Homo sapiens: one gene and its partners. The protein of the gene in region 3 interacts with the protein of the main gene of each other region in a pairwise test. Each region holds a gene or a part of one and is shown on either strand. Other genes may lie near its edges.

Region 1 (2,337 bases), on a different chromosome or scaffold from region 3:
ACAACCACCAACCCTTTCTTTGCAGAGCTGCAGCATGCCAACAGTTCCCCACTGCTCCGGGGCAGCCACTCCTTGGAGCTCCGGGCCTGTGAGTTAGGAAATAGAGGTTCCAAGAACCTTTCCCAAAGCCCAGGTGAGAGGGGGTCCCTGAAAGGGAAGTGAAGGGGTGAGATAGGGTGTAGGGATGCAGGGGCTTACCAGCCCAGGGCCCTCCCACGGGCTCATCCTCCTTTCCCTGAGGAGGCTGATGAGGGTTGGATGGAGTAGTGGACAGGTAGCTAAGGGGGCTGGTGGGCAGGCCGGCAGGCTGAGCTCCAGAGCAGATGGGGATGCCACTGTTCTCACACCCAGGCTTCTCTTCCCCAGGAGCTGTGCCCCAAGCTCTGGTTGCCTGGCGGGCCCTGGGACCGAAACTCCTCAGCTCCTCAAATGAGCTGGTTACTCGTCATCTCCCTCCAGCACCCCTCTTTCCTCATGAAACTCCCCCAACTCAGAGTCAACAGACCCAGTAAGAGGGCATGGGGTCGGGAAGCAGGGCTGGGAGAGTGGGGGTGTGGGGAGTGTGTGCCGGGATTGGACAGGCTGGGGAAGGGGGGAAAGGACTTGAAGAGCTGTAGTAACTACGGTGCCATCACTCTCTCCCGCAAATCAGGCCTCCGGTGGCACCACAGGCTCCCTCCTCCATCCTGCTGCCAGCAGCCCCCATCCCCATCCTTAGCCCCTGCAGTCCCCCTAGCCCCCAGGCCTCTTCCCTCTCTGGCCCCAGCCCAGCTTCCAGTCGCCTGTCCAGCTCCTCACTGTCATCCCTGGGGGAGGATCAAGACAGCGTGCTGACCCCTGAGGAGGTAGCCCTGTGCTTGGAACTCAGTGAGGGTGAGGAGACTCCCAGGTGAGTAGCTTGAGAGATAACCAAAGAACTACAGAAAAGCTGTGGGGGCAAGCGCCTCTCCACCCATTCCGCCCTCCCTCAACTGGGGCTTTTCTGTTACTACAACCCTCATTCCACCCAAACCATTGCTGTCTCCCCTTTTGCCTCTCCCTAGGAACAGCGTCTCTCCCATGCCAAGGGCTCCTTCACCCCCCACCACCTATGGGTACATCAGCGTCCCAACAGCCTCAGAGTTCACGGACATGGGCAGGACTGGAGGAGGGGTGGGGCCCAAGGGGGGAGTCTTGCTGTGCCCACCTCGGCCCTGCCTCACCCCCACCCCCAGCGAGGGCTCCTTAGCCAATGGTTGGGGCTCAGCCTCTGAGGACAATGCCGCCAGCGCCAGAGCCAGCCTTGTCAGCTCCTCCGATGGCTCCTTCCTCGCTGATGCTCACTTTGCCCGGGCCCTGGCAGTGGCTGTGGATAGCTTTGGTTTCGGTCTAGAGCCCAGGGAGGCAGACTGCGTCTTCATAGGTATGTGAGGTCTCCCCATCTTACTCCTCACTCATGCCCCTTGCCTTTCTAACAACTGTTATCATGTCATCATTGTTAAAACAACTAGTTTTATTGAATGATTATTGTATCTCAGGCACTATGATAAGTGCTTTGCATACATTTAATATTGAAAGTCTATGTGGAATATTCTTTATCTCTCTTATCCTAATGAGGAAACTGTAAGTCAGATAATTTTATTGGCTTGCCCAAGTTCACCCACAGAACAAGGACAAATTGTCCAATTCTTTTTGTTTGTTTGTTTGTTTTTGTTTTGTTTGTTTGCCCAGGCAGTGGCATGATCTCAGCTCACTGCAACCTCTGCCTCCCAGGTTCAAGAGATTCTCCTGCCTCAGCCTCCCGAGTAGCTGGGATTACAGGCACCTACCACCATGCCCAGCTAATTTTTTTGTATTTTTAGTAGAGACGGGGTTTCACCATGTTGGCCAGGCTGGTTTTGAACTCCTGACCTCAAGTGATCTACCCACCTCAGCCTCCCAAAGTGTTGGGAGTATAGGCATGAGCCACTGAGCCTGGCCCAAATTGTCCAGTTCTAAAGGCAGCCAACTGTAGGTCCATTTCCCTGCCTCTAGGACTCCCCTCTTACCCCGACTTGAGTCTCCAGGAAAGGTTGCTCCATCCTCTTCCAATCCCATCCTCCTGCCCTGTCCGTGGCTGGGGCTGACGAGCCACTGGGCTCACCTCTGACATTCCCAGCAGAGTGGGACCTTTATCTCCATGTCAGCAGAAGGTAGTACAGGGTCTTGGCTCCTTGGGTGTCCCTTCCCCACATGCACCATCAGATCCCCCATCCCCATTTTACTAACCTTAACTCTATCCTTTGCCCCGACAAAAAAAAAAAAAACAGGCTTGTGGTAAATGGGAGGGCAAGGATTATCCAGGACAGAAGTGCCCAT
Region 2 (3,500 bases), on a different chromosome or scaffold from region 3:
TCTGCCTTGGCCTACCAGAACACTGGGATTGTAAGTGTGAGCTACTGTGCCCAGCCCCAGTATATTTCTTGTCTCTCAGTAAACTGAAAAATGTAAGTAGTACAAATTCCCTGAATGAGGGTTAACTAGAATGTTATGCCATTGGCCTAACAACCCCAACACTATCTTTTTTTGAAATGGTTTGGAATGCTAGTATTTTACTGTTAGTGATTTTCATTCATCATACATGACCATCTCTTTTTCTCTCCTTGAAATGGTTATATTTTAGTTACAGAGTTAAAAAACTGATTGTTTTCTTCTGCGAAGTCAGCTTTTCTATCGCTGCTCACTCTGCTCAGATATCTGAGCCTTCTATGCCTTTGTATTAACCTTAAAATAAAACAAAATCATATCTTGAGAGAGCATCTAAGGACAAAATAGTTAAGATGACTTAAAGACTAATATATCAAGAATATTGGAATGCTGATTTCCTTAATTTAGTTCTTCAAAGTTATTTAATAACTTTATGAATGTTGAAAAGACTTTATTGTAATATTTTATTCTAAAGGGACTAGAGTTTTTTTTTTTTTTGGAGACAGAGTCTCCCTCTGTAGCCTAGGCTGGAGTGCAGTGCCACGATCTTGGCTCACTGCAACCTCCGGCGCCACCACGCCTAGCTAATTTTTGTATCAAATACATTTTTAAAAGATAAAGGAAAAATATTGGGCTGGGCATAGTGGCTCATGCCTCTAATCCCAGCACTTTGGGAGGTCAAGGCAGGAGGATCATTTGAGGCCAGGAGTTTGAGATGGCCTAGGCAACATAGTGAGATCTCATCTCTACTAAAAATCAAAAAAATTATCTGCGTGTGATGGCATATGCTGTGGTCTCAGCTACTTGGGATGCTGAGGTGGGAGGATTGCTTGAGCTTGGGAGGTCAAGGCTGCAGTGAGCCATGATTGCACCACCGCACTCCAGCCTGGGCAATAGAGTGAGAACCTGTCTTCCAAAAAGAAAAATGTTAAAAGAATGATCTAGGCCAGGCGTGGAGGCTCATGCTTGTAATCCCAGCACTTTGGGAGGCCAAGAACAGGTGGATCACTTGAGGACAGGAGTTCGAGACCAGCCTGGCCAACATAGCAAAACCCCCATCTCTACTAAAAATACAAAAAGTTAACTGGGCATGGTGGTACATGCCCTGTAATCCCAGTTACTCCGGAGGCTGAGGAATGAGAATCTCTTGAACCCGAGAGGCAGAGGTTGCAGTGAGCTAAAATCATGCCACTGCACTCCAGTCTGGGTGACAGAGTGAAACTCTGTCTCAAAAAATTAAAAATAAAAATAAATTTGCCAGCATTTTAAAAAGAAGCAGTCATTACGGTTTCTTTGTTAGAATCGACCACTGCTAATATCACTGTCTTAAAAAAAAAATTACCAGCCACGCACGGTGGCTCACACCTGTAATCCAAGCACTTTGGGAGGCCGAGGCGGGTGGATCACGAGGTCAAGAGATCGAGACCATCCTGGCCAACATGGTGAAACCCCGTCTCTACTAAAAATACAAAAAATTAGTTGGGCATGGTGGCACATGCCTGTAGTCCCAGCTACCTGGGAGGCTGAGGCAGGAGGATCACTTGAACCCAGGAGGTGGAGGTTGCACTGAGCTGAGATCATGCCACTGCACTCCAGCCTGGCCAACAGAGTGAGACTCTGTCTCAAAAAACAAAAAACAAAACAAACAAAAACACAAAAACATAATTATCTATACTAGATCCTGATTTATATTGATCTTTGATAGTGAAGGTGGTATTGGAACATTTCTCTGTGTATTGTTTAATAGCCTGGGCTGTATTCACCTTGTATGAAATTCTCAGTTGTCAAGACCTGTGTCTCAGGAGCTTCCACATGTATTCCATGGCTTGATTTCAGAATTCATGAAAAGGATAAATTAATTTGAGTTTTAGTTTTGTGTCATTCCCTACCCAAAGGATCTCAAAGCCACATCTTCCAATCAGTGGCATTAGTTACCTGTCCTGATCATTGGACTCCCAAGTCTTAGTAGACACATAAAAAATAAGGGAAAAGCTCTATCCTGAGCACAGTGAATACTCAATAAGAAGGTATAAATTCTGTAAGGCAAATTGGGTTATGGCCCATCTGCAGCCAGCACACAATTTAAACCCCTTTACCTATTCCTAAAATGCTGCTCAGTAACAAAAATTAAATGTCTCTATCAGTTGCCTCCTTTCTCATCTAGCTACTCCCTACAAATTCATTCTCTTTGAGATCTGCCTTAATCTTTCAATATATCTTCAATCTTCATTTTGGATTCATTGTTTAGGCTATTAAGAACCTAGGAATTATCTGGATTTTCTTATGAACAGTAATAAGAAAATTTTTGTTTCAAGTAATTTTCAATTGGGTCTTTAACATTAACAGTTACCATTACTGGATGCCTAAGATATTATGTAGATCCTATACCAGAATGTTTAAAATATGACCTCATTATAACCTACCAACCCTATGGAGATAGGTGACATTTTCACTAGTTTTCAGATGTAGCTACGACTCAGATAATTAACATGCCCAAGATCATAAAGCTAGTAGTGCCATAAAATGGCATACAATGGATTCAAACTAAGTCTATCTGACTCAAAAACCTATTCTTGGACTCTTCAGAATTTATCTTTCTACTTTTACAGATCACATTCCTCTGACTTTTGTATATTTCATTTGTATCTGTGTCCAGAGTTTAACACTTTAATATTCCTGACTTTGAGAACAGATGTAAGTTTGAATGCCCAGATTCATTTGCAAAGCAAAATATAATAGTAAAGTTCATTCCCAAACTTCTGATAACCCCAAAAATGAATTAGAATGTAAAATATGAATGTAAAGATGGTTAAGTTTGAATATTGATTATTTTGCTCTATTTCAATTTATTTGTCATTGTTATAATCTAGCTGAAATGTCTGTATAGAACAAAAATTTTTAAACCCTGCCTCATCACAATTCCCCCAACAAAAATATTAATTTTTAAAATCCAGTTTATCAATTTCTACTTACTCTATCAATTTTGAGCTATGAGACCTTGCAAAAGAATTACTAGGCCAGGTGTACTGGCTCATCCCTCTAATTTGAACACTTTGGAAGACCAGGGTGGGAGGATTACTTGAGCCAAGGAGTTCAAGATGTTGAACTCCTATGTTGCCTGGGCAACATAGTGAGACCTTATCTCTAGAAGGAAAAAAAAAAATGAGCTGAGTATGGTGACACACACCTGTAGTTCCAGCTACTCAGGAGGCTGAAGTGGGAGAGTCACTTGAGCCCGGAGGTTGAGGCTGCAGTGAGCCGTGATCAGAATTTCTAAAATTCTTTTCATTCTACAATTTTGCTGCTTTCTATATTAAAAGCCTCTTTGGGTAATTTATATTTTAAAAAAAATTCCTAATTATCTCAATAAAGTTTGTTTTTCTTGGGTCTTTAAGAATTTAGAGAGAATTAAAATAGTTTTGTGTTTA
Region 3 (3,500 bases):
ACCACTTTGAATTTTTTTAAAAAAGGTGTTTACTCCAGAAAGAACAAGGAGTATTAGAGGAAGAATTGTACAGATCAAAATGGAAAGTTTGTCTAAATAAAATTGTCTTTGGGAAATGATTAAGAATTTCAAAAATATATATTATATATGTATGTATTAAAACATAGGTAATTATTTAATACAGCTATGCTGTTTCATCTTTAATTATAATTTTTTTTTTCATGAATGCACTTTGGCACAGCTGGAAGTACTTCAGTTAGGGATTGTTACTTGCCTAGTGAGGCAGGTACATTTTGAAAGTTGATCAACTCATCTCCTTAAAAAGAAATTATATACTATGAGAAAAGAGGTTCATTTTGAAGGTATAAATGTAACATAAAGGTGTAAAGCTGAATTTTTGTAGGCAAATATAAGTTTCTACAGTTGTTTTTCAATATCTTCAGTGTGCGTCCCACGTAACAACTCTGGAGTCTAAGTATTAACCTCTGTTTATAACATGAAATCCCTTGATAAAAGCTTTAAAGTTGATCATCTAAGTCTGTGTGTGCTGGAATAAACAGAAGTAACCCAGCAAGTATTATTCAGGAGAGGGTTTGTTATCTGAATGTAAACATAGATTTGGAAATGTATTTTTGGCTTATACATTAAGATGGAAAGGAAATATTTTTGAATAATATCTTTAAGGCAGCAGTTTATTTCTTGTTAATTTGATTAATCTTGTCCTGCGCTTGCCAGTTTGATATCTTTTTTGTCTTTTACAATAAGAAGTGATTCTAAGAAAGTAGGACTTTCTGGAGACAAAGATTCTTGGCTAAAGATTTATTACTGAGTTTTGCTAACTTTCTTTTCCAAGGTGGCTGATGGCCAAGAGTCTACACCACCAACACCTGCACCCACTTCAGGAATTGTGGGTGCATTAATGGAAGTGATGCAGAAAAGGAGCAAAGCCATTCATTCTTCAGGTAGAGAGAGAGAGAGAGAGAGAGAGAGAGAGAGACAGAGAGAGTGTGCGTGTGTGTTTAATAAATTTGAATGTTTGACGTTCTGTTATTTTTATGACTGTCTTTGCTAGCTTTCTCTCTGCTAATTGAGTAACTACTGATGTGGGCTCTAGGATGTATTTTAAAAAGTTGTTGCCTGTGTGACTAGTCTCTCTGAGACTTAACAAATGCAACACCACCACAGCCATAGCCATAAATTGAAAGAACAGCTTTGGGAATATTGACAGTTTTGTTTCCTATATCAGGAAATGCTAATAGACTTCCTAGCAAACAACCTCTAAACAAAGCTTGAGATTTTTAGATCTCATTCCTGTGACATTACTGTGACATGAAAAATTCAGGGCTGGGTGCGGTGACTCACACCTGTAATCCCAGCACTTTGGGAGGCCGAGGCGGGTGGATCACCTGAGGTCGGGAGTTCGAGACCAGCCTGGCCTACATGGAGAAACTCCATCTCTACTAAAAATACAAAAAAGTTAGCCGGCGTGGTGGCGCATGCCTGTAATTCCAGCTACTCGGGAGGCTGAGGCAGGAGAATTGCTTGAACCCAGGAGGCAGAGGTTGTGGTGAGCCAAGATCGCACCATTGCACTCCGACATGGGCAACAAGAGCAAAACTTCGTCTCAAAAATAAAATGAATAAATAATAATAATAATAAATCGGGCCATTTACCTCATCTGTAAGGATTAGGGATAAGAATTTCAGTAATTTTTACTGTTTCTAGAGTTTGCTAAAGAATACTAACTTTTTTTAAACCTTTCTTTTTCATTTTCTAAAAGGTTGATTTGAAGAAACCAGTACCTATTCTGAGGTTATTATTAAACATATACATACCACCATATAAATATTCCTTTAAAGAAAGAACAAGAATATGAGTTTTGCTGATTGGAGTAGTTGAGGTTTGCTAAATAGCTTCTCCAACATGATGTGCTAGAATCAGATCTTTCTTCTTAGATTTATTTAATCTCTGTGAGCCTCAGTTTCTTGTTTGTTACATTCAGAGAACTCACAAAACATATAGATGTGAGAATTAAATAGTATGTCACTAACCTGCAGATTGCCTAGCACATAGTAGGTGCTTAATAAATGTTACCTTCCTTTTGTTTCTCTGTAAGGATGTCCATGTCTTAAGATCCTTGAGCAATGTTTGTTTTCCTTAAATAGGCATATTTGTACCTACCCTCCATTACAGAGATAGAGATAAATATTTATTGTGGAATAATAATAAAATTTTAACAAAAAAAAAGTCCCTGCCTTCATCGACATGCATTAGGTCTAATGAGAGAGAGAGACAAGCAATAAACAAAGAAAACTAGAAAAACATACAGTATGTTAAATGGTGACATGAAGTAAGGACAAAAGTCTAACAGAAAAGGGAAATAGGGGGCAGACTGTTGAGAGAGAGGTTCATTTTGAAATGATAAAGGATGATAAGGGACAATAAAGCCTAACTGAGGTGACATTTGAGAAAAGACCAGCAGTTCAGGAAGTGAACCATGTAGAAAACTAGGGAAAGTGTATCCGATGGAAAGAACAGAAAATATAAAGTCTGTGAGGTTGAGAAACAATGAGGAGATCACGGAGCTTGCAAGGGAGGGAGGGAAAGAATAGTAAGGAATGAAATACAAGAAGTAGTAGGAGGCCAGTGGTAAGGCTTTGGAGACCCCTGAAAGTGCACTAGCTTTTATTCTGCATATGATGGGAAGCCATTGGAGGGTTTTTAGCAGAGGTGTAGTAATGATCCAAGCAAGAGGTGATGGAGGCTTGAACCAGGTTTATAGCACCAATGAGAAGTGGTTAAATATTAATTATATTTTGAATGTGGAGATCACTGGTTTTGATGATGGTTTGAAAGTGAAGGTTGAAGAAAAAGAAGAGTGCAAAATGACTCCAAGGTTTTTGACTTGAACAACTGGAAAGGGGAAAGACTTACGAAGAAAAAGTTTGAGAGGGAAGATTAGGAGTTTGATTTTACATATTAAATTTGAGATACCTATTAATTCAACTATAGATGTGGAGTAGGCATTTCGTTATGAGTCTGGAAGTCACAGGAGAGGTCTGAATTGTTAAATTGCATGTCAGTAGGATATACATAGACACCTGGTATTTAAAGTTATGGTTATGTTTATGGTATAGTCTTCTTTAGCATAAAAACAGTGAAAATTACCTAAATTCTTAGCCCTAATCCTCACAGATGAGGTAAACTGCCTGAATTTTTTATGTCATAGTAATGTCATAGGAATGAGATCTAAAAATCTCAAGCTTTGTTTAGAGGTTGTTTGCTAGGAAGAGATAAAGAAAGGTCTTCATTCATTCATAAAGAAATGTAAGGCTTCTGTGAACTACATGATTCTGAAAAAGCATTTATTCTATGCTGGTATCTGTGAGTTCTGCTAAATATTTCCCTACAATAAGTTTTTTTTTAATAGTATGTAATAGTCACGCTAATATAATGAAAATATAGGATGGTTTTTACTTATTTTCAGACCCATTTATTTT
Region 4 (3,500 bases), on a different chromosome or scaffold from region 3:
ACTAAGTAACATGGTGAAAAAGGCCCCAGACCGTCAACAGTGTGACTCTAGGCAATCATTTAACACTGGAATTTTAGGTTACTCATCTTTAATATAGTGAAAGCACCACAAAATACAAATGGTTGTTGTGAGCAGTATGTAAATGAACTAGGTAAACCTCAAGGTGTTTTGTTGAGTGAGGTATTACAACAAAATGCACATAGCACCGAAAGACATATCAGTTTAATTTCAAATTACTTATTCATAAATTAAGAGAGGAAATATATCTGACTCCTCTGCTAAAGACTGATAATTACATCAGAATGACAAGTCACATAAATCAGAAATTGAGGCATTTACAAGTCTTTCAGATGCAAGTGGTCACGTAAGTAAGTTCCAAAGGGAATAACTTACCTCATCTTGTAGTGACTCTTCGACCTGTTCATCATAGTCTTCATCTTGTCTTTTAACTAAAACACACCCAAATAAATGTTTTAAATGATTGCCAAGATGGTCAAGGATTATATTCAGAAATAAAAGCATGGAAAACTTACCTTGTCGTAATTCTTGATTTTTAAAATGTTCTTCAAGCTTTGCTTTCAATATACCTCCCAGTTCTTCAAAGTGTTCATTATTAAGGCATCCATCTCCCATTACTTCAATGCACTAATGAGGTTGAGGAAAGAAAGCAATCCATAAGATTTGGGGTGTTTGGAGTCCAAAGTTAAACTCCACTAAGAATCATATGGAAAAATGAACACAGTTCAGTATCCTGGAAGATTATTTACATATGCTTAGCTTGTATTTGTTAGAATGACAGCATTTTAGAGATTGGAGTTAGAAAAAAATATTTTCTTTTGAACACTACTGAGCATACCTAGGTGCCAGGCATCATGCTTGGTACTGAGGATTCAAAGATGGAAAACACACACACACACACACACACACACACAACCAGCTCCTAAGGAACACAATTGCTATATCCATACTCCGTACACACAACATACAAGAACACTGAAGGAAGGGCATTAGAGGTAGAAGAAATAAAATATAGGCAAAGGTATGGAAGCATGCTGTCTTTGGAAAATCAGAAGCAATTCTGAATTACAGGAGTGTAAATAAGGACATATAAAGATGCTGAGAAACTGTAAATCTTCAATCAAGATTGGAGCAAACTAGAGTTGTGCAAAATGGGAGTGACACTGTATGAGAAAGGAAGTGACTCAATGAAGAGGAAGGCAGTGCTTGAGGAAAGGAGAATGAACTGAGAGGAAAAGAAAGGAGACATCTGGAGTAGCCCAAGTGAGGCTATTTCAATGGCATGAAAAAGAGATGGGGCAATGAAAAAAAAAAAAAAGAGAAGAATTGAGGAAAGTGTAAAGAACAGAAACTGGAGATGATACCCAAGCTTCTATAGTTGGATTATTAAGTGCAAGACTAAAATACTAGAGTATTCAGAATTTCTTCTCTTTTTCCAAAGAATGCATGCTTCCATGCTGCTGCCCATATCATTCCCTCTACCTATACTGCCCTTCCAAGGCAAATTTACCCTCTTTAAAACAAACATAATAATACCAAAATATTAAAACAAAAAATTTAACATTTTTATTTTTTAACAAATCATACACTATAGCATATAAAAATTTATTTAGCTGCCTTACATCTGCAATCCCAGCACTCTGGGAGGCCGAGGTGGATCACCTGAGGCCAGGAGTTTGAGACCTGAGGAACATCTACTAAAAATACAAAAAGTAGCCAGGTGTGGTGGTGCATGCCTATAATCCCAACTACTTGGAAGGATGAGGCATGAGAATTGCTTGAACCCAGGAGGTGGAGGTTGCAGTGAGCTGCGATTGCGCCACTGCACTCCAGCCTGGGTGACAGAGCAATACCCTGTCTCAAATTTTTTTTTTTTACTTTTAGCAAGACTAATAAATGAACATACAACCTTATACATATTTTTTAAGAGAAAAATATTCACCTTTGCAAAAGAATGCATTATTTCTGAGAGGACGTCTGAATCTGGTTCTGTACCAATGGCCTTAATTAGAGCATCACACATAAAATGCCACATCTGTGTGAGATACTCAGGACCACGGACTCTTGCACACTCCAGGAGAAGAGGCATGGATTCCGCTGCTGCCACTCGAACACGTTTCATTGTTAAGGAACCTCAAAAGACTGTTTATTATTTTGCTTAAATGTTAAAGGGTTCAATGCACTAAAAGGAGTGCTAGGCAACTTCTGTTTATCTAAGATACCCAAGAGCTTGTGTTAAATATAAAGCATGTATAAAAATAGAAAAGACATACCTCCTGTCTCCTCTGTCACCTGTAATAGTGGCAGGAATGAGTCCAGCAGCAGTGAAGGGCTGCCTATTGCTCAAATGTAAACCAAAATACAAAAATGACTATGGAAGGACCCATGACCATTAGCATGCCTTAAGCTGTACCTACCTCAAAACCTTAGGTACTATCTGTTTCTAATAAAAGCAACTGAAGTATTTCCCTGAAAAAGACCACCGAGGACCTCTTCCTATGCTGGCCTTTTCAGTTTTTAATAAAGATTAAATTGCCTTTCCCTATCTAATCTCATTTATAAAATAAGGTCTTGATAACTTCCTCTTAAAAGCAATCCCGCTTTGTCCTCTGGCATCCTGGGAAGTTAAGTCTTTGTTGGGTAAAAGCTGTCTTCTGTAAAGGATACCACTATAGGATACCGTAAAAGGAATGATGACAAACGGGCTTTGGAGTCAGACAGATCTGGGTTTGTGTCTGTCTACCACTCTCGTGTGTAAAGGCATAAAAATGTACTGGAAAATATTAATTACGGCTATCATTATGTTGAGAAAGATATTGGAACGCAGATGTGGGTGGATCACCTGAGGTCAGGAGTTCGAGACCTGCCTGGCCAACGTGGTGAAAGCCCGTCTCTACTTAAAAACAAAAACAAACAAACAAAAAATACAAAAAATTAGCTGGGCATGGTAGCGCATGTCTGTGATCCCAGCTGCTCAGGAGGCTGAGGCAGAAGAATCGCTTGAACTTGGGAGGTGGAGGTTGCAGTGAGCTAAGATCGTGCCATGCACTCTAGCCTGGGCAACAGAGTGAGACCCTGTGTCAAAAAAGAATGCAGATGTGCCAAGTGATGTTTCCCCGCAAAGGTGCTATCCACATTTGAAATGTAGGGTTCTCACTGCTACAGAAAGCTGACCATCTATCAGTGGTTCTCTAATCTATTAAGACAGGTCTTGCCAGGCACAGTGCTCAGGTGTGTAATCCCATAACTTTGTGGGGCCAAGGCAGGAGGACTGCTTGAGCCCAGGAGTTTGAGACCAGCCTGGGCAACATAGGCAGACCTTATCTCTTAAAAAAAAAAAAAAAAAAAAAAAAAATCAAATCTAGCTGGGCTTGGTGTTGTGCACCTGGGTCCCAGCTACTTGGGAAGTTGTGGTTTCAGTGCGTCCTGATCACGCCACTGCACTCCAGCCTAGGTGACAGAGTGAGACACCATCTCTTAAA

Evidence for each region.
Region 1: the proteins of WASL (region 3) and ROBO4 interact in a two-hybrid assay, tested with the Homo sapiens proteins (one study listed by IntAct).
Region 2: the proteins of WASL (region 3) and FCHSD2 interact in a two-hybrid assay, tested with the Homo sapiens proteins (one large-scale study listed by BioGRID and IntAct).
Region 4: the proteins of WASL (region 3) and IPO5 interact in a two-hybrid assay, tested with the Homo sapiens proteins (one large-scale study listed by BioGRID and IntAct).

What each region holds. Positions count from the first base shown.
Region 1 is NC_000011.10:124,885,529-124,887,865, reverse strand, and holds part of ROBO4 (roundabout homolog 4 isoform 1 precursor), read left to right. Parts: intron 1-25; coding exon 26-133; intron 134-366; coding exon 367-508; intron 509-652; coding exon 653-889; intron 890-1,043; coding exon 1,044-1,402; intron 1,403-2,337.
Region 2 is NC_000011.10:72,890,819-72,894,318, reverse strand, and holds part of FCHSD2 (F-BAR and double SH3 domains protein 2), read left to right. Parts: intron 1-3,500. UniProt on the Homo sapiens protein: Adapter protein that plays a role in endocytosis via clathrin-coated pits. Contributes to the internalization of cell surface receptors, such as integrin ITGB1 and transferrin receptor.
Region 3 is NC_000007.14:123,686,504-123,690,003, reverse strand, and holds part of WASL (actin nucleation-promoting factor WASL), read left to right. Parts: intron 1-853; coding exon 854-962; intron 963-3,500. UniProt on the Homo sapiens protein: Regulates actin polymerization by stimulating the actin-nucleating activity of the Arp2/3 complex. Involved in various processes, such as mitosis and cytokinesis, via its role in the regulation of actin polymerization.
Region 4 is NC_000013.11:98,012,675-98,016,174, reverse strand, and holds part of IPO5 (importin-5), read right to left. Parts: intron 2,134-3,500; coding exon 1,961-2,133; intron 646-1,960; coding exon 534-645; intron 450-533; coding exon 394-449; intron 1-393. UniProt on the Homo sapiens protein: Functions in nuclear protein import as nuclear transport receptor. Serves as receptor for nuclear localization signals (NLS) in cargo substrates.